Regions from separate parts of the Homo sapiens genome. Here regions 2, 3 and 4 are each reported to be linked to region 1. The links are microRNA targets in miRTarBase. Many come from high-throughput screens and were not tested one by one. Region 1 holds a microRNA gene; each other region holds the end of a gene's coding sequence.
What was found. Region 1 holds the annotated microRNA hsa-miR-187-5p (GGCUACAACACAGGACCCGGGC, at 4,320-4,341, shown strand). A microRNA usually pairs through its seed, bases 2 to 8, with sites in the 3' UTR of a target mRNA and lowers its output. Matches are read on the target gene's strand: a 7mer-m8 pairs with bases 2 to 8, a 7mer-A1 pairs with bases 2 to 7 and ends in A, and an 8mer does both.

Region 2: miRTarBase lists USP51 as a target of hsa-miR-187-5p. Seed matches in the 3' UTR shown: 7mer-m8 at 3,579-3,585.
Region 3: the mRNA of TSPAN13 is a reported target of hsa-miR-187-5p. Seed matches in the 3' UTR shown: 7mer-A1 at 1,920-1,926.
Region 4: miRTarBase lists ZBTB5 as a target of hsa-miR-187-5p. Seed matches in the 3' UTR shown: 7mer-A1 at 5,653-5,659 and 7mer-A1 at 3,852-3,858.

What each region holds. Positions count from the first base shown.
Region 1 is chr18:35,901,631-35,909,211 of GRCh38, reverse strand. It overlaps MIR187 (microRNA 187), which reads left to right and starts at 4,286; the gene lies at 4,286-4,394.
Region 2 is chrX:55,481,131-55,488,711 of GRCh38, forward strand. USP51 (ubiquitin specific peptidase 51) reads right to left here. Exons shown (of 3, transcript NM_201286.4): 3 at 3,486-7,581. The coding sequence ends at 5,674. Among named protein-coding and RNA genes, the nearest start is that of USP51, 4.9 kb to the right of the region's middle. RefSeq lists an enhancer at 7,274-7,581 and a silencer at 7,401-7,480.
Region 3 is chr7:16,781,932-16,789,512 of GRCh38, forward strand. TSPAN13 (tetraspanin 13) reads left to right here. Exons shown (of 6, transcript NM_014399.4): 6 at 1,486-2,605. The coding sequence ends at 1,560. It overlaps LOC124901593 (a long non-coding RNA gene), which reads left to right. Exons shown (of 2, transcript XR_007060228.1): 2 at 253-615. Among named protein-coding and RNA genes, the nearest start is that of AGR2, 19 kb to the right of the region's middle.
Region 4 is chr9:37,434,522-37,442,102 of GRCh38, forward strand. It overlaps ZBTB5 (zinc finger and BTB domain containing 5), which reads right to left. Exons shown (of 2, transcript NM_014872.3): 2 at 3,581-7,581. The coding sequence ends at 5,997. GRHPR (glyoxylate and hydroxypyruvate reductase) reads left to right here. Exons shown (of 9, transcript NM_012203.2): 9 at 2,140-2,469. The coding sequence ends at 2,261. It also overlaps the pseudogene CHCHD4P3. Among named protein-coding and RNA genes, the nearest start is that of GRHPR, 16 kb to the left of the region's middle. RefSeq lists an enhancer at 1-519.

The sequences.
Region 1 (7,581 bases):
GGTACGCTGGGGACAGCCCCATAAGGGGCCGAGGAGCCTGTCTCCCAGGGAAGTCAGGCCTTTGCTGGCATGCACACAATCAGGGCCCTCTGGGTGCTTTGGTTCTGGCACAGCCCTTCTTCTCAAACTACCAGACAGGTCGTAGTAAGCTCTTTCCCTCCTGGAGACACCCAAGGGCCTGCACCCTGGATGTGTAGCCCAGGGTGGGAGTTCTGCCCACGGCCTTCTGGCTGCAGGCCTCAGTCTGTCCTGAGTCTGCCCAGAAGCCCCTACTACCCTGCCTGGGTGGATGCTGTCAGGCCACTCTATGTGGGCTCATTTCTTCCCTGAGATCCAGCTGCACTTCACCAAGGCCACTGGCCATTCAATTAGTAAATTCTCCCCTGGTTTCCCCAAATCCTTCCCCATCCCAGGCTTCTGAAGCTTAGATCCTCGTACAGCCCACACCCTTAACCTCTCTTCTGTCCCTTTCGATGTGAAATAGGATAGCATTTGGCTGCAGGTGACAGAATCCAACCGTGGCCCAAATGGGTGAGGCATTCACTACCTTATGTCCAGTGCTTAGCGCAATGCCTGTTATGTTTGTTAAATGAATACAAGAGTGAGTAATTTCCTTAAATAATAATTCTGAGGCTGGGCGCAGTGGCTCACGCCTGTAATCTCAGCACTTTGGGAGGCAGAGGTGGGTGGATCAGTTGTGGTCAGGAGTTTGAGACCAGCCTGGCCAACATGGTGAAACCCTGTCTGTACTAAAAATACAAAAATTAGCCAGGCATGGTGGTATGTGCCTGTAATCCCAGCTACTCGGGAGGCTGAGGCAGGAGAATCTCTTGAACTCAGGAAGTGGAGGTTGCAGTGAGCCAAGATTGTGCCACTGCACGCCAGCCTGGGTGGCAGAGTGAGACTCTGTCTCAAAAGAAATAAAAAATAAGGAAAAAAAAAATTCGAGAACTTATTCATGAGAAGACCCCTGGCCCTCCACCTGCTACAGACTTAATAACCACAGCGTTCTTTCCCCTCTGCCCCAGCCTACTGCACCCCGCTGCCTGCTGATCTCTTTGTTCCCCTGTCCCGCAGGTGGGCTTCATGAGCTTGAAGCTTTCCTCTAAGCTTTTCTTTCTGGTTCCCATTCTGTTCACTCTGACCTCTTGTTGGCACAAACAAGTCAGATAGCCCCATCTCAGGATGGGCATAGAGGAAGTGATTTGGTTCCCCTCAGGACCATGTTGGGTAGGGTTGAGGTAGAAGATCCCGGGCAGTAAGGGGGGACAGGAGGCTTGTTTTGTCTTCATCTTCCTGCAACACCACCTACTCTCCACTATTTGGGCCTTGGACCTGCACCTCCGTTGTTCCAGCTGAGCTGCCCGTATGGGCCTGGCTTCTGACTTGGGAAAGAAGGCCTGGCCTGCAACACCTGGGAGGATGTGCTGTGAGGCAGGTGCAGGGGGCTCCCACAGGCTGAGGCTCTGTTACCGCCTGGCCTGCATTTTGGTTCCTGGGGAATCTGAGAATCAGCCAGCTGTCTAAGCATCATGCAAGTAAGCAAGTCATGCAGGCAGCCACTCTGGGTCAGCTTCTGGGATTTACTCATCATGACTTGCTCCCTGCTGCGAGGCCAGAGCCAGAGCTCAGGTCTCCCTGTCCTTGCATCAGCACGGGCTTTCTCCCCACTGTCCTAGCTGCCTCTGTGTTCTTTAGTTTCTGAAAATACAGTTCCAGGGTGCCTGCTGCACATGCTTGTAGTCAGAAGTTGCAGATGAGTACTGGGATACCTTCACTTTCTTCAGACAGAACCCAATAATGCAACTCCACTTCTGCTGCCTTTCAAAGGCAAGGTAAGCATGTGCAGAATTCAGTTTCTTCAGAGTTTTGTCAGCAGGAGCCAGCCCCCCAAACTTGGGCACTTGGATAGCATCAGGTGTCTGGACTTGTGAAGCAGGGGGCTGGGTTCTGGGGACTGGGTAGCTTCTCCCAATAGCCAGTAGCGGGCCACTGCCTGGTGGCTCTGTGACAGGCTCTCATTTTTCAGAGGCCGTGTGTTGGGCCCTGAGACAATGATGTGTTAAAAAGTGTACGAGTCCACAGCAAAAGAAACTACCAACAGAGTGAACAGGCAACCTACAGAATGGGAGAAAATTTTTGCAATCTACTCATCTGACAAAGGGCTAATATCCAGAATCTACAAAGAACTCAAACAAATTTACACGAAAAAAACAAACAACCCCATCACAAAGTGGGCAAAGGACATGAACAGACACTTCTCAAAATTAGACATTTATGCAGCCAAAAGACACATGAAAAAATGCTCATCATCACTGGCCATCAGAGAAATGCAAATCAAAACCACAGTGAGATACCATCTCACACCAGTTAGAATGGGGATCATTAAAAAGTCAGGAAACAACAGGTGCTGGAGAGGATGTGGAGAAATAGGAACACTTTGACACTGTTGGTGGGACTGTAAACTAGTTCAACCATTGTGGAAGTCAGTGTGGCGATTCCTCAGGGATCTAGAACTAGAAATACCGTTTGACCCAGCCATCCCATTACTGGGTATATACCCAAAGGATTATAAATCATGCTGCTATAAAGACACATGCACACGTATGTTTATTGCAGCACTATTCACAATAGCAAAGACTTGGAACCAACCCAAATGTCCAACAATGATAGACTGGATTAAGAAAATGTGGCATGTATACACCATGGAATACTATGCAGCCATAAAAAAGGATGAGTTCATCTCCTTTGTAGGGACATGGATGAAGCTGGAAACCATCATTCTCAGCAAACTATCACAAGGACGAAAAACCAAACACCACATGTTCTCACTCATAGGTGGGAATTGAACAATGAGAACACTTGGACACAGGAAGGGGAACATCACACACTGGGGCCTGTTGTGGGATGGGGGGAGGAGGGGAGGGATAGCTTTAGGAGATATACCTAATGTAAATGACGAGTTAATGGGTGCAGCACACCAACATGGCGCATGTATACATATGTAACAAACCTGCACATTGTGCACATGTACCCTAAAACTTAAAGTATAATAAAAAAAACCACACACAAAAAAAGTGTATGAGTCCTCTGTTGCTTCTCAGGGCCTGATGCAGTCTTAGATCATGAGTGCCCAGCCTGAGAAAGGAGTTTGGAGGGGAAAATAACTTATTTGGAGAACATGTGCCTGTATAGGTCTGCACAGACTCAGATATAGTGGGGAGTACCCTGGTCAGCTGGGAAGAGCCCCTCAGTCTTTTAGACAATTTAGGAAGAGAAGGGATTTCCCTCCCTCTAAATTGTTCAATTTTAAGTTCCTGTACAAAATGTGGGCATGATATTGTTATCCCTCTTCCTTCTACTTTTATCTTCTTTTGTTGGTAGAAAACGATGTGACACCTAATTTCTACACTTCTGTTTAATGTCCCATCTGGGCTCAAAGTCTACAGCCTTCCCAAAAGATTCGTTGAACAAAACTGATGGGTCCACTTTACTGAAGCTAGAAATAAGGAGAGCAACACCGCCGCTTACTCCTCATTCCCACAGCCCAGGAATTCTGTGGAGCTCAGCCAAGGATTGCGCGCCTCGGGGAGGAATCTCAACAAGTCACCTTTGGAGGGACTGAAGTTGGGACGCTTTTTGGGTTCTGGGCCTACCGCGTTTTATTTTGTAAAAAAAACCAGAAATGACTCATCCAAAATAATCTGCAAAAAAATGATATGTAGGAGTTTTTGAATAAAAAGAAACCATAAATAAGTAATAAATCCTTCAGAGGCCTATAGGAAATGGATAGCAGTAATGTTGTGTTTACTGCCTTACTCCCAAAGTGCAGATATTTATTATAACTCAGGGCAATTCATTGTACTAGCTTGGCGTTTACAAAATTCTCATCATAGTATTAGAGTAGGAACCCATTTCCTAGGAAGTATTGTTATGATAAACTGTAATTAGTGGCTTGTAAACAGCCATAATTCATTGTTTAAAGGAAAAGGTATGTGGACAGTGAAGTATTTGCGTGCAAAGCCCCTCACCTCTCTGAGCATTTCCATCAGGCTCGCTGCTCACCTGGAGCACAGGTCATCTATGCTGCCCCGGGCAGGACTCCTCGCCCATCACAGCCAAGACTCCTCAGGTCAAGGCCTCTGCTGAGCCCCAGTCCCAGGACCCTCTACTGATGCTGACCTCTGTTCTTTTACAGCTTCCTCATCGGGATGCACAGCAAGTCGGATTCCCCAAGCAGAAGCTGGGCAGCCCACCTGGAAGAGGAGGCCAGGCAGGTGCTGCAGGTCGGGCTCACCATGACACAGTGTGAGACCTCGGGCTACAACACAGGACCCGGGCGCTGCTCTGACCCCTCGTGTCTTGTGTTGCAGCCGGAGGGACGCAGGTCCGCAGCAGAGCCTGCTCCGCTTGTCCTGAGGGACTCGACACAGGGGACTGCACAGAGACCATGGGAAAGTCCAGGCTCTGGTGGGCAGGTGGGTGGGGTGTTGGGAGAGAGGCCGACCCGGACCACCCCAGGTGTCACCCATTCAGCCCCCTTTTTTGTCCTAGTTTCGTCTCTCCGTACACAGCTTGGCTCACCTCTGGCCCAGTGCAGGTAGCTGGTGCTGGCTGCAGGGTGACACAGCCTACTTTGGGTCTGGGCTTTGAGGATGCCTTCTGCTCCTCACCTCCGGTCCCCAGACCAGGTGACTGAGACTCCACAATGGGGGTAGGAGGGTAGCAAGGAAGGCAGTTTCTCCCCAAACATCTCTCCCATTGATGAGAAGCCCACCACTGGACCGCCTCCAGATCGGAAAAGCATTGCATTTTTAGGAGTTGTCTATTAAAATGTGAATATTTTCTGCAAGGTGGGAGATTAAACCACTGTAGGCATTAGCTGGTTTCATTGAAGACATTACTGCCAACATGACAGAGACTCCAGAAGGAAATGAAATCAGATCATGAACTCCCAATAGGGAAGAAGCCCCAGAAGAGGACCCTAAAACTGGAGGTGAGAGGTGTGAAAAGCAAGGTTCCTTCACCTGTGCAGGCTGTCACAGCACTGGGGTGGGAGCTTGGATGCAGGGTCCGCTGAGTGACTCTGCCTTCACAGCTGAGGACTATGGCTCGAATTTCCCCAAAGAGCCTGCTCTTGGGGCAGCACCCTTCAATCAGATTCAGATGAGCCCCTGGCCCCCAGGACTACCTGCATGTTACTTTCCACACCAACCCTGTGTCCTAGATAGAAAGGATCCATTTATTCCCTTGCTTTTCACCAGCCTCATGGTGTTCACAGTGCCTCCTCTTTTACAAGAAATGAGCTAGTTTTAAAATGTAATTGGTGCAGTGTTTTTCCTTCTCTTGAATGATCTGGAGGGAACTAGCATAAAATGACATTTTATGGTCATTTTAGGCTGCACTTAAGTGAAAACTGAGGGGAAAGCCGGGAAGTTGAGCGGATCGAGATGCAGGGAAGGCTCTGGGTCATGTGTCACCATCATGGCCTGAACAACCCAGCAGGATCCACTACAGAACAGATCAGGTTAAGGCAGACATGCTGTCTTCTGTGTGGGAAACCTGGAAACTGTCTTTTTTTTTCTTATTATACTTTAAGGTTCAGGGTACATGTGCACAATGTGCAGGTTTGTTACATATGTATACATGCGCCATGTTGGTGTGCTGCACCCATTAACTCTTCATTTAACATTAGGTATATCTCCTAATGCTATCCCTCCCCCTCCCCCAACCCCACAACAGGCCCCAGTGTGTGATGTTCCCCTCCCTGTGTCCATGTGTTCTCATTGTTCAATTCCCAACTATGAGTGAGAGCATGCGGTGTTTGGTTTTTTGTCCTTGTGATAATTTGCTGAGAATGATGGTTTCCAGCTTCATCCATGTCCCTACAAAGGAGATGAACTCATCCTTTTTTATGGCTGCATAGTATTCCATGGTGTATACATGCCACATTTTCTTAATCCAGTCTATCATTGTTGGACATTTGGGTTGGTTCCAAGTCTTTGCTATTGTCAATAGTGTCACAATAAACATACGTGTGCATGTGTCTTTATAGCAGCATGATTTATAATCCTTTGGGTATATACCCAGTAATGGGATGGCTGGGTAAAATGGTATTTCTAGGTCTAGACCCCTGAGGAATCCCCACACTGACTTCCACAATGGTTAAGCTCGTTTACAGTCCCACCAATAGTGTAAAAGTGTTCCTATTTCTCCACATCCTCTCCAGCACCTGTTGTTTCCTGACTTTTTAATGATCCCCATTCTAACTGGCGTGAGGTGGTATCTCATTGTGGTTTTGATTTGCATTTCTCTGATGGCCAGTGATGATGAGCATTTTTTCATGTGTCTTTTGGCTGCACAAATGTCTTCTTTTGAGAAGTGTCTGTTCATGTCCTTTGCCCACTTTTTGATGGGGTTGTTTGTTTTTTTCTTGTAAATTTGTTTGAGTTCTTTGTAGATTCTGGATATTAGCCCTTTGTCAGATGAGTAGATTGCAAAAATTTTCTCCCATTCTGTAGGTTGCCTGTTCACTCTGATGGTAGTTTCTTTTGCTGTGCAGAAGCTCTTTACTTTAATTAGATCCCATTTGTCAATTATGGCTTTTGTTGCCATTGCTTTTGATGTTTTAGACATGAAGTCCTTGCCCATGCCTATGTCCTGAATGGTATTGCCTAGGTTTTTTTCTAGGGTTTTTATGGTTTTAGGTCTAACATTTAAGTCTTTAATCCATCTTGAATTGATTTTTGTGTAAGGTGTAAGGAAGGGATCCAGTTTCAGCTTTCTACATATGGCTAGCCAGTTTTCCCAGCACCATTGGTTAAATAGGGAATCCTTTCCCCGTTTCTTGTTTTTGTCAGGTTTGTCAAAGATCAGATAGTTGTAGATATGTGGCATTATTTCTGAGGGCTCTGTTCTGTTCCATTGGTCTATATCTCTGTTTTGATACCAGTACCATGCTGTTTTGGTTACTGTAGACTTGTAGTATAGTTTGAAGTCAGGTAGCGTGATGCCTCCAGCTTTGTTCTTTTGGCTTAGGATTGACTTGGCAATGCGGGCTCTTTTTTGGTTCCATATGAACTTTAAAGTAGTTTTTTCCAATTCTGTGAAGAAAGTCATTGGTAGCTTGATAGGGATGGCATTGAATCTCTAAATTACTTTGGGCAGTATGGCCATTTTCACGATATTGCTTCTTCCTATCCATGAGCATGGAATGTTCTTCCATTTCTTTGTATCCTCTTTTATTTCATTGAGCAGTGGTTTGTAGTTCTCCTTGAAGAGGTCCTTCACGTCCCCTGTAAGTTGGATTCCTAGGTATTTTATTCTCTTTGAAGCAATTGTGAATGGGAGTTCACTCATGATTTGGCTCTCTGTTTGTCTGTTATTGGTGTATAAGAATGCTTGTGATTTTTGCACATTGATTTTGTATCCTGAGACTTTGCTGAAGTTGCCTGTCAGCTTAAGGAGATTTTAGGCTGAGATGATGGGGTTTTCTAGATATACAATCATGTCATCTGCAAAAAGGGACAATTTGACTTCCTCTTTTCCTAATTGAATACCCTTTATTTCCTTCTCCTGCCT
Region 2 (7,581 bases), not on the chromosome of region 1:
AGTCTTTCTGGTGCCTCAGTCATCTTCTTCCTAGTTAGGCCTCACCACAGGTACCTCATCATAAATAAGTAGAAATCATAGGCCAGTCAGTTTAATTCTCTATTAAAGGGTTGGTGAGAAAGAGGGTTCAAATTGTAAGTTTGCATATAGAATACAGGTGTGTCTTTAAGGGGACTCTTTTAAAAACAGATCAATTTAGGGCATGGTTAGATTCTGGATAAGGCCTCATCTGCATACAAAAAGGATTTTCTACACCTGTCCTTAGATACCAACTTCTCTGATACATTTAAAACATGATACAGTTTTTAAAAATTTGATTTTCTGTGCAATCCCTTCCTCAACTCCACTTGCTCCACCTCTAGCTGCAGTCCCTTTCTCAGATTTGGCATACCCTCCTGGTATAAGGGAAGGGGAAACTGCTCCTAAACGGTAGCCAACATGGCAACATTATGATCTGGATTTTTTGGGAAAGCTTTAACTTCAAATATTCTGTGATTGTTGTTCCGTTATCTGCAAATATCATATATCTCTTTACTAAATGGAATAAAGTAGTAAAATAAGGAATTTTGAAAAAATAAGTCATTTTAACTTAAGCAAAAGTAGTTTCAACAGAGTGGTGCAAGCAGAAACCAGAATGCAGGGAACTAAAGATGGAGCAGGAGGTAAGTGAAAATAATGTATGAAAAAAACACATGTGAAAGAGTTTGGCAGTAAAAGGAAGGGGAGCAAAGGTAATGTATTTTTCTTTTAAACATGATCCCCAAATCTGGATTTTAAAACAGACTCTTGGGTTTCTTCTGGGGATAATATACACTCAGGAGAAGTATTGGGATTTGGAATACTTTTTTTATCTCTTACAGAGATGATGGGACAACATTTTTGAGGAACTACCATAGAAAATCTAGGATGTCTAGTTGCTGGATTTTATCTGTCTAGCAAAAACATGGCTGTTACTAGAATAGAGGGAAGTGTGTAGGAGTAAGGCCCTCTGACTGTTAGGAATGGACGAGAAGAAGGAGGCTAGTGGGTGAAGCTTCAGAAAAGAAGCAGTATTCCTTTTCCTTTGAAATGACAGTGAAGGCATGGAGGATGGATGGAAACTTAAGTGTGTAGATGTGGGTAAATCAGGCATTCTTATGAGATTTTTGATTTCAGAAAAATAGGACATGAAGTCACCTGCTGAAGCTGAGGCTTAGAGTGTAGAACGGAATGTCTTCATTTATTCATTCATATATTCATTCAGCTAGCATGTTAAGTACCTGCCATAAACTGTGGTAGGCCTGTGGGATTTATAAACACATAGGTCCGGCCCTAGCCTGGAGTAGCCACTACTGTGTGTTTGGAAGAGAATCAAGGTAAAGGAAATGAAAGTAATTCAGAAACAACAGAAGCTGTACATTACAAATCAGTATTGGACCACTTGGGTAAGGTCCCAATAGGTAAGTCCCTCCCCGGGCTCGTTGGAGGAGCTGGTGTTGTGGGCATTTTGGGAAGATCTGAGGGAGAGGGGTGATAAAAGTGACACTCAAAGTGATGGCTATGGTGTTGAAGTTAGAAAAGAAGTCTTGTATGGCTAAAGAGCTGATGGTTTTACAGACCGCAAAAACATGAGATCTTACAGTCACGTCTTGGGGCTCAGCCTGGCATATAGCATTGAGTGAGGCTATATGTCTTATATTGGGGGTAATATTTTGGCTTCATCCATCATGATTATCCTTAGGAAAGTCATTTAGCCTGATCTATCTGAATCAGCCATTTCCACAGAAACAAATACCCCTGTAGCATGGGCAACTTTGTGTAGTAGATAGGTTACTCTCTCCTTGCAGGTTACCTGCATCCAGATTTGTCAGAAGCTGCCTTCTGTACCACGCTGGTTTATCCTGTCTTCCATAGCAAAATCAGGAAAAGCAAAAATATATATATTTGAATTATCTATACTGGATTATGATGGGACATGCATGGGCTTTGGGGACCTGCATTTGAATACTGGCTTCACTGATTAGAACAGTAGAGTGAACTTAAGCAAATCACTTTTCTATTCTGATTTTCACTTTCCCAGTTTGCGAAATATGTTCAGTAATGATTGTCTCCCAGAACTATGAGGACCCAGGACCAAGTGAGATAATAAAGGTAAAGCAGTTAACACAGTGCCTGATTTAAATCAGTACTCATATAACATTATTGCTTTTTTTCCCTTTTATTTGGAATAAGCATTTCATTACTGTGAGTAAGGTTTGAAGTCTAGCACAGGTCAGTGGCTGAGCTGAAACTTGCTTCTTAAAGATGTACAGGGACCCACTATAGTTTCTTAATTTTATATGATGAAGTTCATCCAAGGTCACTCCTCCTTCCCTTTTCTCTCTCATGCTTTGTGGTCTTAGGAACTGATGCTCCACTAATCATATAGCTTGGTTAGTATGTTCAAGACCCTTGGCTGCAAATGACAGGATCCCAACTGACAACTAGCTTAAGCAAAACAAAGGACTCTATTGGCTCAGATAGCTGGGAACTTTGGCGCTTCTGGCACAGCTGGATCCACAAGGTTCAAACGATGTTCCCTGGGCTCTTTCTCCCAATCTCCAGTTCTTTCTGGTTTTCTCTTTGTGTTATAGATATTGACCTCTCAAAGTCCCAGAATCAGGTTATCATAGCATAGTGACTACAGCTTGGGGGTGGGATCAGGAGGGAGACACGTTTTTTCTTCCAGTGTCCACATACCTTCAATTTAGCAACAGACTCTGATTGGCCCTACTTGGGCCCTATGCCCACCCTCAGAAGAAATGCTCCTGTGGGAGGGGTACTGGTAGAGGGACAGGGGAATTGAGAACTCTAATCTGGCCCAGCCTGAGTGATGTGCCCACTTGGGGAGGGGTGACAGAGGCAGGGAAAAGTGATCAGTAGCCCCAATAGGTCCACAAAGAATGGCGGGAAAATGAGGGTGCCGAGCAGAAAAATAAACTACAGCTCTTCAATAAACACTGTTACCAGACATCACTCCCTTGTAGTAGAGTGATGATGTGCAGTGTGATGAAGAACACTGTGCAGTGATGAGGTACTACTGTCTCACGGGGAAGGTAAACTAATGTGGTAAACCCTAGAGAGGTGTGGTACACAGTTGTGAGACACTGCTGCTGAGGAACACTGTGATGAGGGGCAGTGTGGCCACACACATGCCAGAGAGCTCAGCCTCACCTTCAGCTGCTGCTCCTCATCCCCACCCAGTCTTCCATGACTGCCAACTTCCAGGCCTGTGCTCTTTTCTCTGCATTGTACCTGGGCCTCCCTCCACACACCTGGCTATTTCTCACTGAGCACCTTTCTTAAGCCAGCCCCTGCAGCTGAGTGCTTTTCATATCCTGCTTTGGGGTAAAATACAATACTGATCACACTGTAGTATAGCACTGGGCATTTAATGGCAGCCTGATGGATGAAGGGGTGAGAAAACATTACTGACAAGGTGAATAGAGCAAATAACTGAACTCATCTTCACATTTAACAAATATTTATTAACACAGAAATGAATAAGGCTTGGCCCCCTGTTCTTAGATGCTCAGTGCAGAGGGGCAGACAATCACAAAGCTACAATAAAATCACAGTAGAATAAGTACTATCACCGAGGTATGGACAAAGTACTTTGGAGGCACAGTGAGAGGAATAAAGAGGGGAAGAGAGGAACAATTTTCTCATTTATACCTGCCTAGAGCATTCAGGGAAGACTCCAGAGAAGTCATCTGTGAGTTGGGTCTTGAAGGAGGAGTAAAAGCCACCAGGTGAATAGTCAAAGAAGGAGCCCTGCAGGCTGGGGCTCAGAGATGTAGGTAAGGCCAGGTAAGTAAGGGGTTCAGGGAACTAGGCATGAGTGACAAAAAAAGGAAATAAAGAGGGAATAAAGAATGAGCAGAAGGACTGCAAGCACAAACCCATTGCTCTACTGTGGAAATTAAAGGTCTTGTTTCTCCTTGGAGGGGGAAGAGGGAAAAAGGAAGGTGGGAAGGCCTCAGATATGGGTCCCTGCCACTTCCTCAATCAGGCCATGGGGCTCAAATACCAAAGCCAGAGCTTCACAGCTGTGATCTAACTTCTCTAAGCCACCAAATTATCAAGAGCCCCTTTTCAGAAGCTAAGAATTTGTATGAATAATGCAGTTCTAAATGGGAAAGTCCCTAATGTTTTCATTTTTCTCAGATGAATTGATTCTGCCTAGGAAGTAATTTGACTTCCTTCAGGATATGAGATGGGGCATGGAATCTCAAGAGGGGAAGGTGGGTTAGTTAGTGTTTAGGCCTTGCAGCCATTTCACAATTGGATGGTAAGATAATGATTAAAATGTCTATTTCCTTTTCCAACGTATATTGATATATCAACATAAAGCTCAAAAAAAAAAATATATATATATATATATACTCACACACCGCTGTCGTTATTCCTGTCTCCTCCATTTATTTCTTTCATACCCGTCTGTATTTTAATATGCTTAAATAAAAAAATAGAACTTCTTAAACTTTTAATTTTAATAATTTTTTCTACTTGAATCTTTCACATTTTTTCACTGGTCAATTTTTATGTAACTGTTTTTCTTTTTAAAAGCTTAAATTTTTAAATCTTTATTTAAATATTTAAAGTTTTCATTTAAATCTCTTGAACTTATCTAAGGTTCTTTTTATTTTACAAGTCTCTATTTTCTTCCTGTATTTTTTCAATTTTTGTCTTTAAACACATTTTGTCTTTTTGTCTTGAATTATTCTAAACTTGCCTCTTTTAAAACTTTTCTCTAAAATCTGAATTGCATTCCATTCTGTATTTTTGAAAATTTATTTCTTAATCATTATAGTAGTAATTTTGTTAACACTTTTTAAATACGTATATTTTATGCTTTAATTTTGAAATATCTATTTATATTATTTTCCTTCATTTGAAACTTTTAAGATGTTCCTTTGTTTCTAACTTTAATTTTTAACAGTATTTTCTTCCTTTTTTTGGTAAACTTTCATTTTTAACCTTGTTCCTTAATTTATTTTACATTTTTAAACTTTAAGAATTTAATTTTCTTTGCTTTTAATTTTTAAAATTCTGAAACTTCTTTAAATTAAAAAATTATTTTTAACTTTTAAAATATTTCTTTTAAAAATAACAACTTAAATTTTTTTCAACATTTAAAAGTTTTTTTCTTTTAAAATCTTAAAAATGATTTTTTCCTTTTTAAATGTTTTTCTTTTAAAGCTCTTTAAACTTTATTTTAAAATATTATTTTTCTTTCAAACTATTTAGCTGGTCAGCCACAGCTGGAACACCAATTGTGAAGTTTTTGCTGATAAAGGAATACTCCCTGACTTCACAAGATATTTCTGTAAAAACAAATGACATAGAGTAGCATCAGAACACTTCTACTCCCGTTGTCCCCACCTAAAGCATTCTTTTCATTTCATTATGCTTTATGTGACCATTTTCAACCTCTTCTCCCTCTCCCCATTTCTTAAGGTTGAATGGTCACTGGTTAGTATTCATTTTTTTCTTCCGACAGACCCATGGGCCATGCTAAAATAGGTTCTTTATATCAAGATACTAGCTGTCACATAGGTGTTACTGTCATTGTCCATTCCAAGTAGGTCTGTGTGTCACTTCAAAATCCTTGCCTAATCATTTACTTTTTTTTCAGTAAGTGGTCTGGTAAGACTAGTCTTTCTCTAGACCCTGTTTGTGATAGAACAGTAAATACCCTTCACTGTAGAGTAAGTCCTCAATGGTAGCCTTGGTGATGATGGCATCATCACAGCTGAACCACTGGTCCTTTTGTTGCCGGATGAAGCTGGTATAGTGGCCACTTTCCAAAGTTCCATGGTGATTAATCACTGCAAACAAGGAATACTTATTCTCATTGGGCACACAATCTGTTGGTGGCTGGCCTTCTTTCATTCTGCTCTCTTTAGTAGAGGCCAAAAACGGAGTCATGTCCAGCTCCAAGGGAAAGGAGATAAAGGTATTAATCTTTCGCCTCTGTTTGCCTACATGCTCAAACCGCTTGAGATGAAAACAAGCCACAATGGGTAATTTTTTCATTGTGAGCTGTTTAGTAGACTCCTGGTAGCTTTGGCAACTATTGCATTTGATTTTGGCACTGCTTCCTAGGTGCTCTGGCCTTGTAAACCACTGTAGACAGTCTGTAAGTGAGGGGATTCCTGGTATGTGGTCATCCCTGCTCACTGTGCTGTCAGCCCTCTCTGGGTTCTGGGAATCGAATGTGGCACAAGAGCCAGGCAAGTCCAAACTGATGTCCCAGCATGGGTCTATGGTGGTAGAAACACTATGGCAGGCTTGACATGTGACATCTGATTGCAGGCCACCTGTAAAGATTTGGTCTATGATGCAGTTACAGCAGTTGGGGTTATTGGCCTCCTGCCCACCACTATCATCTTTGCTGTGTCTATGTAGCACGTCTAATATTGCAATAAGGAACTCATGGGCATCCTGCTGCCTGTACCCTGCTAAATGTTCTGCATGGATCCATATCAGATGCAGTAACTTATAGGGAATGTGAGGAGTTCGGCTCCCAGAGTACATAGCATGAAAAAGCGAAGACATTTCACAGACCAGACACAAGCTGGGGCTTGTCATTATACATTTGTGCTTGTCAGAGAGGAAGAAATCTTTCAGTAGAGGAATATGGGTAAGTGCCTGGACAATACAATTCATAAAACAAGTGTTCCCAAGATTGATTAGCCCTCTCAGGCCTACAGTATAGACTGACTTTTTTCTTCTCTTTTTCTTGGGTTTCACCAATTTTGGCTCCTGTTCCTTTGTCTCACAGGTTGATTGCTTGTCTTCAAACCCTGATGTCATAAACTGTTGATGAGAAACATCTGTTGAGGTGGAAGTTAATAATCTCAAAATTTTTTCTTTTGTTTCTTTGGCAATCTGTTCTATGTCTTTGTCATATACATAATCCTTACACATGAAGCAATATATGACCCCATGATAAAGGTCTACAGCTAAATGGTGCTGCTTTGTTTCTGCATGTTTGTGAATATGTTTCTCAGTGAAGCAGCCAAAAAAGACACAGGAGAGACAAGAGTGGAGTCTGTTCATATGGGTACTACATACGTGACAGATGCATGACTTTGCTTTACGTTTCCTAGTCTCTGGGGTCCCACTCCAAACGAAACGCTGGTAGATCAACCTCAGGTTCTTCTGCCAGTTCTTACCTACTTTAAAGCTCTCCACATGAGAGCAGCCTGTGGGACCCTGACCAAACTCGACCTCCAGCAACCAGTCCCCTAAGCCGCCAGGATCCCCCGACCCGTCTAGGTCACCAGAGCAGCTTCTCCGTGTCTGAGGCCTGGACCCAGGCCGGGATCTGCGCCGGGATCCACGCCAGGCCCTGGGCCGCGGTGCGGGTGGGGGCGGGGGTGGCGGCGGGGGCGGGGGCCGGGCTGGAGGCGGGGGTGGGGCCGAGAGCCCAGGCTGGCTGCGGGAGCGGGCCCGGGGCTGGGGCCGAGGGCGGGGCTTGCGGCGCGGGCAAACGGGCGAGGAGCTGCTGTGACAGCGAAGGGGGATTGAAGGGAGCACCTTCTCGTCGCCGCCGCT
Region 3 (7,581 bases), not on the chromosome of region 1:
AATAAAACCACAAAAGTGGGGTAGTTTATGGGCTCCAGGTTTGAACATGGGCTCTACCACTGAGGACCTGTGTGATTATTTTGTTTAACCTCTTGTTGCCTCAGTTTCCTCACTGGTAAAATGACGATATTGATAGTATCTATTTTGTGAAAGCTATTGGGGGGATTATATGAATTTGTAGTTTGTAGAATGGTACCTTTCATAAAGAACTCTTTGTTATGTTTGTTAAATACATTTCTTTTTCCCCATTAGATGGATTCCAAAACAGATGACTTTCCACATCTTCAAATCAGGCTTACCTTTCCTTGATTCAACCTGCAGACCTCAGTCCACCAGCTATAAACACTGCCAGTTATGAATCTTACAGTAATTTGTGGATTCTTATTGTGGTCAGTGGAGAGAATCTGGGACTTACCTAACTCTCTAGAAGTAGTTTAAAAGGGCTAATGGTGGCTACAAAGTCACATAAACAAAATTTAGGTTAAAAGTTGGCACACGTATAAAGTGGGAGATACAGTTTAAAACTCATTTTATTCTATTAAAATTTTGTATCTTTTTTAGCCTAAAGAGTTACAATTTTCATTTATTTAAAATAAACCAACTTTGAAACAGAAACAGAGCACACATTTCTTAATTTAAAAAACTATACTGGCTAACAATTTAGCGAACTTGGTGCGGGAAATGGCACAGTAACAGCTTCATCTCTTCCTACCAAGAGAGGTAGGAATTATAACATTTTAAATTTCTGTGTTGGAAAATTTATTCATTTTAAGATTTTTTGCTGTTACTTAAATTTTACTGAACTTAGTTTATTCCTGAATTATCAAAATATATGCTATTTTAGCTATTTAGACTACTTTGACTTTGTATTAGTTTTCCATATTTCTGCTGTAACAGGTTACCACACACATAGTTGCTTAACACAACACAAACTTATTGTCTTACAGTTTTGGAGATCAAAAGTTTAAAATAAAGGTACCTTCTGGAGGCCAGGCTCACCAGCCCTCCTTTTACATCTTCAAAGCTAGGAGAGTTGCAGCTTCTCTTTCTATTTCCCTTTACTTCTGCCATCACGGTGTCTTCTCTCCATGTTTCTGACTCTGTCCTTCCTGCCTCCGTCATATGTGTCCCCCTGTGATTATATCATTGAGCCCACCTGGGTAATAATCTCTTTATCTTGAGACCCTTAACCACACCCGCAAAGTCCCTGTTACTGTGTAAGGTAACATATTTGCAGGTCGTAGGGGTTAGGACATGGACATCCTTCAGGGCCAGTCATTCAGTTTACCACAGTGTTCGTTTTAATTTTTTCTCAGCGCCCGTCATTTGGTTTACTTCATTTCAAAAAGAAAAAAAATCTCTCCCCGTTGAACAAAAGATGCAAAGCGATTGAGAGGGTCCAAAGTTATTTTATTGATCAACTGAATAAATATACATAAATGTTACTTTCTTTTTCTTTACTTTATTTTTTTTTCCCCATTCCAGATCCTGGGTGTTTGGCTGACCTACAGATACAGGAACCAGAAAGACCCCCGCGCGAATCCTAGTGCATTCCTTTGATGAGAAAACAAGGAAGATTTCCTTTCGTATTATGATCTTGTTCACTTTCTGTAATTTTCTGTTAAGCTCCATTTGCCAGTTTAAGGAAGGAAACACTATCTGGAAAAGTACCTTATTGATAGTGGAATTATATATTTTTACTCTATGTTTCTCTACATGTTTTTTTCTTTCCGTTGCTGAAAAATATTTGAAACTTGTGGTCTCTGAAGCTCGGTGGCACCTGGAATTTACTGTATTCATTGTCGGGCACTGTCCACTGTGGCCTTTCTTAGCATTTTTACCTGCAGAAAAACTTTGTATGGTACCACTGTGTTGGTTATATGGTGAATCTGAACGTACATCTCACTGGTATAATTATATGTAGCACTGTGCTGTGTAGATAGTTCCTACTGGAAAAAGAGTGGAAATTTATTAAAATCAGAAAGTATGAGATCCTGTTATGTTAAGGGAAATCCAAATTCCCAATTTTTTTTGGTCTTTTTAGGAAAGATTGTTGTGGTAAAAAGTGTTAGTATAAAAATGATAATTTACTTGTAGTCTTTTATGATTACACCAATGTATTCTAGAAATAGTTATGTCTTAGGAAATTGTGGTTTAATTTTTGACTTTTACAGGTAAGTGCAAAGGAGAAGTGGTTTCATGAAATGTTCTAATGTATAATAACATTTACCTTCAGCCTCCATCAGAATGGAACGAGTTTTGAGTAATCAGGAAGTATATCTATATGATCTTGATATTGTTTTATAATAATTTGAAGTCTAAAAGACTGCATTTTTAAACAAGTTAGTATTAATGCGTTGGCCCACGTAGCAAAAAGATATTTGATTATCTTAAAAATTGTTAAATACCGTTTTCATGAAATTTCTCAGTATTGTAACAGCAACTTGTCAAACCTAAGCATATTTGAATATGATCTCCCATAATTTGAAATTGAAATCGTATTGTGTGGCTCTGTATATTCTGTTAAAAAATTAAAGGACAGAAACCTTTCTTTGTGTATGCATGTTTGAATTAAAAGAAAGTAATGGAAGAATTGATCGATGAATTAAGTGAGGTGGAATTCTTTTCTTTCTGCTTTAGCTTCTCTCTGTTGGACTTAGAGCTGGGTATTGCTATTTTAGTGTATAATCAAGCTGTGGAAATAAATTTCCAGCATTAATGTCTATTGGTAGTCATCCTCAAATCCTTTCTTGAAATGTTTCAGTGGCTAATATTATCTCCATGGTGAGAAAAAGTTTTTCTAAAAAGAGAAGCCATTAATATTTATTTGGGAAAAATATATACGTTCTTTCCCATTACGAAAAATTATTAATTTCTTGTTTTACATTCTAGGTAGCATGTGGTATTTTATTGTCTTACTAGGTTTTTAGACCGAGAGAGGGTAAATGGTTGATCTGTAGAGTTTTAGAGCATTTTGTAGGTTTGTCACTTCCGTGACTTTGCAACACTAGCTAATTTTCCAAGGAAACAGAATTGTGCCATTTTCACAATGTCCTATGAGCTCTGGGGTAGCCCTAACAGTGTCCCCACTTATACCATAAGATGGGATTATAAGTGACATATGAAGGGAGATTTTATTATTATTTTTTATTATTATACTTTAAGTTCTGTGATACAAATGCAGAATGTGCAGGTTGTTGTTACACAGGTACACATGTGCCATGGGGGTTTGCTGCACCTATTAACCTGCCATCGAGGTGGGAAGTTTTAAAATTCTGTCTTCCTTTAAGGCATTTGGCATTTTCCATGTTTGTTTTGTTACATTTTGAAATTATTATAAGGCCCTGGAATCTCCTAATGTAATACTTTCCTTGGTACAAATGATTATATGTGGAAAGGCTATTCCATAGAGAATCAGCCCTTACCTTGGTTTGTGCTCTAATTGCAGTGCCCTTATTTGGGTCAACACAGTATGCTTCATGCTGAAGTTAAATGATGCATCCTGGAAATTCTAACAAAGGAAGGTCTCTTCTTCTGTTCAAATATAGATTGACTGATGTCAGCCTTCCTCAAGTGTGTTACTTAAAAAGCAAAGTGCAAAGAGAACAGCTGTCAGGGTGAGAAGTCTAAACACATTTTTGAAAGTAGCCTGGTGCTGACAAAATGCATTTAATCGTGCTCAAGGCTTCATGAAATTGAGTTCATTAAATTAGGATTTTAAATCATTATGGCTAAGAAAAACATGTATATCTAAATATTAAATAAAACAAAATGTAAAGATATCTAAGATGTTAAGATTTTAGTAAAATAAGTTAATGAAAAAGAAAGCCAGGGTCTGGGAAGTATGAATATTTAGGACTACTAAACTATGGGATTATAAGAGTGGGTAATGACAGTTAGCCACTCAAGAAATACACATTTTCAAGCACCAAGGTTGTCCTTGTCAAATGAGTCTGGGCTTTCTGTTTTCTCTGGCAGATCTGAAGGTGATAGATTACCTAACACCTTCTGTGATGCTTCCTGGGATCTTTGTGTCGGGGTGCATATTTAGTGGAAAACCCTCTGAATAAGTCAGTCCTGAATCCCAGATGGCCCTGCTATGATCCTGCAAAGGTCATCCTGATCCCAGGATTAGAGAGGGCCACTGCCCAAGGGCACAGAAATGCTGCCATAAACACGTAGTGTCAGAGGAGGATGAGTTTCAGATCAGGGTAGACCCTAGATGTCCTTTCTTCCCAAACCTAGCATTTCTTTAAAAAGGAACTGTGCTGCTTAAAAAAATCTCTTCTCTATTTGCACATTCCATTTATAGGAATGTTTTTTGGCACATTTGCCCGGTCAGCCTTGATGTTAAGGGTTAAATTTTATATAGAGAATATAATACTAATACAAAGGAAGAAAGAGTTCAGCTATAATTTCTAAAATCTGAGCTTGTTGTAGCTTAAATTCATCTCAGATACTCTGTTATCTAAGCAACAATGTGTTTGGTATGAAAACCAGTTTCGCATGTTCAACCTAAGTTACATGCTGCTGAATGGAACCTTTCATAGAAGGAAAGGAAACCAGAAGTGTGGCTTTTAGTTCTTCGTTTCCTTGAGCCAAAACCTCCTCCTACAATTTTTCTAAATATTTGTTTAACTCTGTTAAAGTTTATTCATTATTTTGCAAATACACTAAATACGTCAAACTGTTTCAATTTTTAGCTGGTACTAAAAAAGTTAGAATCAAATTTTTCCATAGTATTTCATAGGAGAAAAACACTTTTAGTCACTGTGGTTGTACAGACATGATCATTCATGTGTGAATTGTTTTATTAGAGATGACAATAAAGTTAAAAACCAGCTTTTCCAGGGTTCTGGATAAGTGAAGGGATTGGTGTAAAGTTTTGTTCTGTATTTGGTACGTTTTGGACTAAAATAATTTTTAGACCAGGCTTTCTGTGCCAAATGAAATTACAATATGTGTTAGTGAATGTGTTCTAAATAAATTTAAGAGTGCAATCCACCCTTTCCCCAACACCTCCACTCCACGAGAAGAGGAGAGGGAGAGAAGGGAACGGGGCTTGTCATGTGGATGTTTTTCTTAAATGTCATAACTGAGCAATTGTAGTCATTGAAATACCTCTTGAAAATATGAGAAAGGGGAAAATCAAACTCTGCCATGTGGCAGGCCAATTCTCATCACTCTCCTTAGGAAAACCAGCTTTTGGAATTCATTTTCAAATGAGGATTTGAGGCCTGTGAGTTAAAATATATGTCAAAGAATGGACTTTGACATCACTTGGGGGGTGAAACCACTTTGCCTACTTTTAGGATCTTGCTTTTCATAGATCAGGGAGTCATAACTTGACAAGTAGCCTTTTAATAGGTTAAGCTGACTTGACTTGGACTTTGAAGTCAAGGTCCTTGAACTGAAGGAAGTTCTATTCTTGCCTTAGAGCTTTTAATGATTTTTCTCCTGACTGGTATTCTTATCAGTGATTGCTAGTTAGAGGGTTCTCAGTAGACTACTTAGAATTGCTGAATTCAAGAAAGAAAGAAAACAGATTTAGACAGTCATGGAAGATCACTTGAAGAAGACTGTTGTTCCGAAATTGGTAAAAATGGTTTAATTAGGCATGTTGACCGTCTGTGTAAATGACGTTTACAGATGATTTATGTTAGCTACATTTTTTTAACAGTTAATTCCTGTTTTTTTCTCCCTAAGCTATTGAATCTCAGATAAAACTGAAATTTTTGTTATTGTGGTAAATACATATAGCATAAAAGCTATCATTTTAACCATTCATAAGCTTGTAGTTCAGTGGCAGTAAGTACATTCATATTGTTATGCAACCATCACCACCATGCATTTCCATAACGTTTAATCTTCTGTACCCATTAAGCAATAACTCCTCATTCCCCTCTTCCCCTGGCAACCTGCACTCCACTTTCTATATGAAAACGATTCTGGGTACCCCATATGGGTGAAATTGTATAGTAGCTGTCCTTTCGTGACTGGCTTATTTACTGAGCATAATGTCCTCAAGGTTCATCCACGTTGTTACATATGCCAGAACTTTCTTCTTCTTTTTTTCCATTGACATGGGGTCTTGGTATGTTGGACAGGCTGGTCTTGAACTCCCGGGCTCAAGCAGTTCTCCCACCTCCACCTCCCAAAATGCTGGGATTACAGGCGTGAGCCACTGCGCCCAGCCATGAATTTTCTTCAAGATTGGATAATATTTCATTGTATGTATATGTCACATTTTGTTTGTTCATTCATCCATTGATGGACACTTGAGTTGCTTCCACCTTTTAGCTATTGTGGATAATGCTATGAGCGTGGGTGTATAAATATCTGTTCCCTGCTTTTAGTTCATAAGCATATACCCAAGAGTGGAATTACTGGGTTGGATGGTAGTTCTGTATTTAATTTTTTGAGAGACCACCATATTGTTTTCCACAAAACAAAAATGGCTGCACCATTTTATATTCCCACTATGTTATTAACATTTTTATTTGGCTGTTTGAAATAGCACTCTTCAGTCTTCTAGTACTCTTCTACTTCTCTGTAGTCAGAGAAGTAGTCAAGATATACTTTCACTTGAAATTTATTTAAATGCAAATGATAGATTGTGAGATGACAGAAGAGGGATTTGGTAGAAAGAACAGACATTGCTAATATTTCAATGAGTTTAGAACAACCATGTTTGTATCTTCTATTTTTTTTTTTTTTTGGAGACAGAGCCTCTCTTTGTCACCCAGGGTGGATTGCAGTGGTATGGTCTCAGCTCACTGCAACTTCCGCCTCCCTTGGTTTCTCATGCCCCAGCCTCCCGAGTAGCTGGGATTACAGGCATGGGCCACTGTGCCCGGCTAATTTTTTTGTATTTCAAGTAGAGTCGGGGTTTCTCCATGTTGGCCAGGCTGGTCTCGGACTTCTGGGCTCAAGCGATACGCCTCCCAAAGTGCTGGGATTACAGGCATGAGCCACCACGATTGACCTCAATTCTGTTTTTAACCTTGTATGTACACATTTCCTGTAGTTGCAATTATAGCATAGAAGGTCTTAAATTCTTTTTTACTTAGGCCTTTTCTGTTTTGCCATTATGTTTATTATTTTTATGGATGACAACATAGTGCATTTTGTCTTTTTTTTTTTTTAATTTATTTTTTTTTATTGATCATTCTTGGGTGTTTCTCGCAGAGGGGGATTTGGCAGGGTCATAGGACAATAGTGGAGGGAAGGTCAGCAGATAAACAAGTGAACAAAGGTCTCTGGTTTTCCTAGGCAGAGTGTGTGTGTCCCTGGGTACTTGAGATTAGGGAATGGTGATGACTCTTAACGAGCATGCTGCCTTCAAGCATCTGTTTAACAAAGCACATCTTGCACCGCCCTTAATCCATTTAACCCTGAGTGGACACAGCACATGTTTCAGAGAGCACAGGGTTGGGGGTAAGGTCATAGATCAACAGGATCCCAAGGCAGAAGAATTTTTCTTAGTACAGAACAAAATGAAAAGTCTCCCATGTCTACTTCTTTCTACACAGACACAGCAACCATCCGATTTCTCAATCTTTTCCCCACCTTTCCCCCTTT
Region 4 (7,581 bases), not on the chromosome of region 1:
AACATGTAGAAGTAGCAGCTCCCACTGAGGCCACTGCAACCAAAGAGGAGGAGGGGTCAAGTTAATGAAGGCCATAGGACTCCAGTCCTTCCACCCCTTCAGAGTGACACGGACCTTTTGCAAAATGCCATTTAGTCACCCTCCAACAAAGTGTCTTTCCCTCTGTTGTCCTGTAAACTGTAATGTACGAAATAACATATTTTGATGATCGGGGTCTTGGCCTCTTGACATATACGCTAAAAAAATGGGGGTTGTTTTATATGTGTCCTGTGTAAACCTGTCGGCAAATATAGCCACCACTTTTGAATTCTCCTAGATGGCCCTGAATTTTGCCACTTTGAAATAATGTGCTACTCAATCTCAGCAACCAAAAACCATTATCCAGGAATGTTTCTTGTGAGTGAGCGGATTTATTCTGATTCATTATATGTCTGAAACGTTGGGGTGGGGCTGATTAGGGTGGCTCACGCCTATAATCCCAGCACTTTAGGAGGCCAAGGCGGGAGGATCACCTAAGACCAAGAGTTCGAATCTAGCCTGGGCAACATAGTGAAACCCCATCCCTATAAAAAATAAAAAATTAGCCATGTGTAATGGTATGTACCTCTAGTCCTAGCTGCTCAGGAGGCTGAAGTGGGAGGATCACTTGAGCCTAGGAGGTTGAGGCTGTAGTAAGCTGACTATGCCATGGCACTCCAGCCTGGGCAACAAAGCAAGACCCTGTCTCAAAAACTCTTCTCTACTAGAAGAGGCCAAATAGTCAGATGCAAATTTCTCCAAACCTATCCTGACCTTGAGTATGTAAAGGGGTACTATACTTCATTCCTGACATATTTTGGTTTCCATGTTGGCATTCAGCTCCGGGTTTTCTATTTGGATGGTGAAAATTTGGACCCTGCCATTCACAGTCCCTTCCTAAGTGTAGGGAAAGGCTGGTTTTTGCTGTTCATTGTTATTCTGAAAGCTCTGGTTTGGGGTCCATGTTCATGCTGGCTCTCAGTTTGATCAGATGCAATGTTCTTGAGAGGAGGGGACCTAATTGTTACCAGAGAGGAGAAGAAACTCTGTGAATTAAGTACTGAATTATGGCTGGGCGCAGTGGCTCACACCTGTAATCGCAGCCCTTTGGGAGGCTAAGACAGGAGAATCACTTGAGGCCAGGAGTTCAAGACCAGCCTGGGCAACAAAGACCCTATTACAATAATGATAAAATTTAAAGAAGAAAATGTACTCAATTAAAAGGAAACATGATTTCTACCTGGAAAAAACCCAAAAGCAGTTTTATGGGGTTTATTTGGTAAAGATGATGTCTCGCTATGTGGTCCAGGCTGGCCTCGAACTCTTGGGCTCAAGCGAACCTTGCATCTCGGCATCTGGAGTAGGTGGGACTACAGGAATATGCCACTGCACCCAGCTGACGGTTCTTTGGGGGCAAGTAAGTTCACTTGCTCTGGGGTGGGATCAGAGATAACTGTGCTGTTCAGCATTTCATTTTGGAGTTATTTCTGTAGATCAGAAACCTTGTGGTCATGTGGCATCATTTTCAAGGGCACATGGTACAGGTGGCCAGTGCTAAACTCCTATGCGTTCACCATTTTTTTGTTTGAGACAGAGTCTCCCTCTGTCATCCAGGCTAGAGTGCAATGGTGCAATCTCAGCTTATTGCAACCTCTGCCTCCCAGGCCCAAACAATCCTTCTGCCTCAACCTCCCAAGTAGCGGGGACTATAGGTGTGGGCCACTACGCCTGGCTAAATTTTTGTATTTTTTGTAGAGACGGGGTTTTGCCATGTTGCCCAGGCTGGTCTCAAACTCCTCAGCTCAAGTTATCTGCCTGCCTTGGCCTCTCAAAGTGCTGGGATTACAGGCATGAGCCACTGCGCCCAGCCCTAGAATACAAATCTTTCATCACATTGTGACTGGGTTTTAGTAGCCTGGAGGCCCTTCACTCTGTTAGTCTGAACCTCAGCTCTGGGGGAGTGTCAAGCTTAGTGAAGGTGGGAGAGAAGGCAAAGCATGGAACCATGAGGTAGTCTCTCTTTATTCTTCTTACCGGCAAACCCAAGCCATGAAAACAGCCCAGCTGAAGGCTGCTGAACCACCCTTCTTATCTCCCTCTCTCTCTCTCTCTCCTTTCCAGTGATTCTGCCCCACATTGGCAGTGCCACCCACAGAACCCGCAACACCATGTCCTTGTTGGCAGCTAACAACTTGCTGGCTGGCCTGAGAGGGGAGCCGATGCCTAGTGAACTCAAGCTGTAGCCAAACAGTAGAGATGGAGGGCCGGGAAGCAAACCGTGCCCTGGTATTGTCAGACACACCCAGGCTTGATTTGGATCCACAGGCAGAGCCAAGGGAAGGTGTGATTCTCTGAGGAAAGAGTGATTCTGATATATGTACTTGTCACATTGGTGTTGGACACATTTGCGCCAAAAGTATGGTAATTCTATTATTAAATAATTCTCTGAGAGACCGTCTTGGCCTGTAAATGGGGAAGCTAACAAGTGGATATGGCTGGGCATGGTGACGCACCCCTATAGTCCCAGCAACTCAGGAGGCTGAGCGGGAAGGATCCTTTGAGGCCAGTTCAAGGCTGCAGTGTGCTATAACCACTCTTTTTAAATCGCCACTACACTTAACCTGGGCAATGTAGCAAGATACCGTTTCCTGCAGTGTGCTATGATCACTCTTTAAATCACCACTACACTTAACCTGGGCAATGTAGCAAGACACCGTTTCAAAAAAAACTTTAAAAATACAAAGAGCATGTTTCAAAGTCACAGCATCCAATGATCTGCCTGGCTCTGCTTCCCACCCCAGCCCTCAGCCCTGGGCATTTTCCTTATTGGAACGTGTCCAAACCACCTTACCCCTCATCTTCTCTGCCCAGATTCCTTCACTTGTCCCTCACCAAGGACGGGACAAACAGAACCCAGTTGTGACCATGGCACTTGAATCTTGATACCTAGACCATCAGGAAAATTAAGGAGCACTTCCAGAAAAGGAGTTAACTGGAAGAAATGAGAACTAGGTAAGGACGTAACTCTTATTTTGGTCAGAACGATTAGAGGTAGGTGGGTTTAATTTTAAAATTAGTTTCAGCACCTACACATATTGTTCCCTTTGCCCATTCTGTCCCCCCAGCCCCTCCCTGCCCCCAGGTGGATTTTTTTTTTTTTTAATCACCACCTTACCCACTTCTCTCCAAGGTCAGGCCACAGCACTGCCATTGCCAATGCCTTGCTCTGTGCTCAAGGAATCAGCTTCCAGCTCTTCCCAGCAGCCAAGCCAAACTGGCAGATGGAGTTTCCAACTTGGGAGGCAGGTCCAGGGAGCAGCACAAGATTACGCAGGCCCTCAGAGAGCAACTGGGTAGACTGAAAAGCAAAATCTCATGCATGTGCGTAGCTCAAAGACAGAAAAGGCGGGGGAAGGCAGAAGGGAATGATTTGAGAGGAACGACCAATTAACTGTTAATAGAAGGTTTGGTTTAAAACAAAGTACTAGTCAAAGAAGGGCTGGCAAAGAGATATTACCCTCTTTGGTTTCAACCTTAATAACGTAAAGAAAAAGAACACATATTTAGAGGCATGAATATGACAAATTTTTTATTTCAAAAATCTCAAGTTGTAACCAGCATAGCACCACTGACATGGATGCCTTGATAGAACTCCTTGATAGAACTTTATGATCTGTTCACCAGAAAAGATTCTACATGATCACGCCAGACTATAATTAAGGCTAACCAATCAAAATTCAGGTACCCAAAACCAGTTATAATCCAGGTAGAAACTACAGATCATAGGAACCCTGGGACTGGTTTTCCAGGGAACCCTGGAATTATTTTTTAAGTGCTACAGCATGTACAAGGACACTGGCCCACAAGCTTGCTTCTCACACGTAGAAACTGACAGACTAAGAGGTAGATGAGAGATTCCAGGTTCCATCTAGCAGTGGAGAGGCAGGGCTCCAGCATGTATCAGAGATAAGCCCCAAAAGCAAAGTCCACTTATGCTTCAGCAGAGGTAAGCGGGCAGGCTCCTGGCACCACCTCCTCCAAATGGAAGGGAAGGAGGGCTGCACCGCTCTGCCTGTGTCACTGGCTCCTCTCCCTGGGTCCAGGCAGGGCCTCTCATTTTCTCCAGGCTAACCCACTGTGTCCCAAGGTTAATCTCACAAGACACTGGTCCCTACATCATGTAAAGGGTGGATGGGGAGCCTCCTAACACCATGTCAACATGACTGCTAACAAGGAGCCACACACACAACTGAATTTCACAGGACCTCATATCCTCCAATGGGCTCTTTCCCACATCTACTCGAAAGGAATCGTGGGTTTCCCTTTGGGCTTTTCTTCCTGGGAATCAGTCCATGGGAGATGCCAAGCGCCCCTGGAACATGAAATTATCCACACATGTGTAACTGCACACTCTAGATTAACAGGAGAGAAAACACGCTCATTTTTGTTTCCAGCTACACATACTTAGCTTTCTAAACACAAAAACTGAATAATTTATCTGATTTATGAATGATGGTTTGGTATGTCTAAGAAAGCTATATAAAACATAAAATGAACTCATGTTCATGCATGAATTAAACTGACTTCATGAGTTCTAGGGAGACGCATTAACCTGTGCTGTTCCCCTGGACGCACACTTGGCCTCATACAGGTGCCACTAACAGCCCTGATGGCAGTGTCAGAGGACAGCAAGGTGAGGCTGGGGAAGTGAGGCTGTAGGGCCCAGAGAGGCCCTAGTGCCTCCAACAGTCTCAGATGCTACTTGATTACTTCTATGCTATGGGCTGCTAACTCTTACATAGCCTAGAAAATATTTACCCATGAACACTACCATGTTTGGATTTCAAACAACTTTAAACATTTGGTATCAGATTGGGGGAGCAACAAATAATAAAATTTAGGGTCTGTACTGTTAAAAGTATAGTATATAACAGTAATAAAACCTGTGTGGGGCATTTTTGGTTAATCTGTCGTCGAAAACGGTAATCTAAACCTGGGAGAGTTGCTATATGGGGAGGGGAGAGTGAAGAAATGGAGAACAGGCTTGTCCTCGGGTAGGATGTGTCAGCCTAGACTGGCCCTCAACATCTGGACGGAGCAACAGGTAAATGTGCCATGGAAGACCCCACAAAACATGACTCCACATCAGCAGAACAAAGACAAACACAAGTCTTTTCTGACTTCCTAACATGGAACTGTAACATCTGTAATACAAGTTGGTTAAAATACTGCTCAAACAGCACATAGGGAAACAATACCTTGTCACTCTCTACAAGTACACACTCCATTTACAATTTGGTTTTTAAACCAGAAAAAACTGTTAAAACATCTATCCAACAGTGATGTATTCAAAAGTATATACATCTAATAGTCCAAGAGAATGCTCACTCTGGACCCAGTGTCAGCACCAAAGTGCAGTGTTTATGACTGCAAATCAGGTAAAAATAAAAAATACAGTACTTTGAGGCCTAGGACTAGCTCATGATACACTTTAAAGCATTTGTGGCAGACAGGTGTGTCCTCAAAGGCCTTCCTTTAAGACAGGCACCAAATCACCACTGGTTACACATAAGTGCATTTTGCATCACTATACAGGGATATAATACTCCCATCAGAAGGTATAGGAAATTTAAATGCTACACAGTTTTACAAAAATTGCTAAAAAATTTTTTTTGCACTTCAATTTTTAAATTTTTAAATGTGCCACTTTTAATATCAATTACAAACTACTTTCTGACTGCATTACTCAACCCCAAGGAAGCACCTGGTTTCAGGGATTGCATCCCTTTCCCAAGACGTGCACTTCACTCAGAAATGCAGCAGCACAAATACTACATGTTAGTTCTCCGGTTATTAGTTGCTAAACTGTTTAAGAGCCACTGGGCAGCTGGAAGCCTCGAACCCAAAGGCATTAACTGCTTACCAAAAGAAATTCAGTCTGACAACTGGCCTCAGCGTTGTCTTGTAAGGACAAACAGCTAGAGCAAAGTGCTGGGAAGATTGCTGCTCTGCCAGCGCAGGCAGGTAGTCTTTGAGTGCTTATACAGGTGGCTGGACTGACTAAACCTCTTGCCACACTTCAGGCAGGCGTAAGGCTTTTCACCTGTGTGAACACGGATGTGCTTCTTGCAATCTGTCAAAGTCAGAAAAGTTTTGCAGCAGATTTTGCAGGCATACTTGCGAGCTCCCTCTACAACCAAAACATTGTGCTCTGATAAGGCCTTCTTGCACTTTGACAGAACATCTGCAGATGCCCTGGTCAACTGTGGAGGGCCAGGCTGGGAAGGATGGCCATTTTCAAATGAGGACGTAGCTCCATTCATCATTAGCTGAGAACTGGTAGAGTTTTCTGGGATCTGTGAGCTCCTGACGGAAGTTACAACTGGCATTTTGGGAGCTATGCGGCGGTAGTAAGGAAAGTTACTGGCTCCTCCCCTTGGGGAACCTATCATTACCCTGGAGAAGGAGGAGTGGAGGCCCAAACCAGACCTGGAAAAGTCCATCCCAAACTGTTCTCCTCCTTGGTAGCCTGAAGTCTGCACACACGGCAGGCCCATCACCTCCTGCATAGGCCTGACGAAGTGGGAGTCTGCAGGTTCACTAAATGGGTTCTCTACATGGGAGCCAGGGGCAGAGGAGGGCCCACCTGCAGGCCCAGCCTCTGGACTCAACAAATAGGGGGCCTCACTCTCCAGCCTGCAGTCACTAGTGGTGTTTGGAATATTATCATCATTGTTCTGATTTGCAGTAAAGTTATTTCCTCTGCTCTTGTTAAGAAAATTCGAAATACTAAAAGTGGACTTATGCTCTAGGTTATTTGTGACTTCCAAAATATGGATATCACCTACCCTGTCTGTGCTAGACTGGGGATCTGAAAAACTCCGATCACTGCTTTCAGGGCTGAGGTCTATCTTCTCGGCACTGACCACAACTCCTTCCACTTCCACAGACTCGCTGCCTTCTGCTTGTGAGGTCACATCGCTCACTTCATCCTGAGGCTCAGGTGAGCTCAGGGGCTCAGATTTAACCACCACTCTCATGTGCTCCTTCTCACCAAGGCCAACCTCAGGGTTTTCACACTGAAAACTACTTTTCTCAGGTGCAGCTTCCTGATCAAAACTAGTCTCAACCTGAGTTGCACGAGAGGCCATGGACAACTGTGCCATGTTGCCAGCACTGTTATCAGACTGGCTGGGCACCTGGGCATCTTCTTGAGTGCCAAAAGACTGATCAAACATGATCGCACTATCTTCCTGGTTATCAGTCATTCCATCAGCTTTAGGATTATCCACAATTTTCAGAGAATCTGGTGAAAAGAACTCCTCCCGAGAATGAACCCCTGAAGGCCCATTCTCCGGTGTAACATCTGAAATGGCAGACTCATCTATGGAGGGTCGGAGGCGCTGCCTGGCCCGCTCCTCTGCAGACTGCTTGCGCTTATGAAGGCGTCTCATGGGGAAGGGCGTGCGCTGATCCAGGTTACTGCGCATGGAAGAGCTCATGGGGGCTGGCTGCTCCTCGCCATTCTGGCTGGAATTGAGGGCTGAGCTCACGATGCTTAGT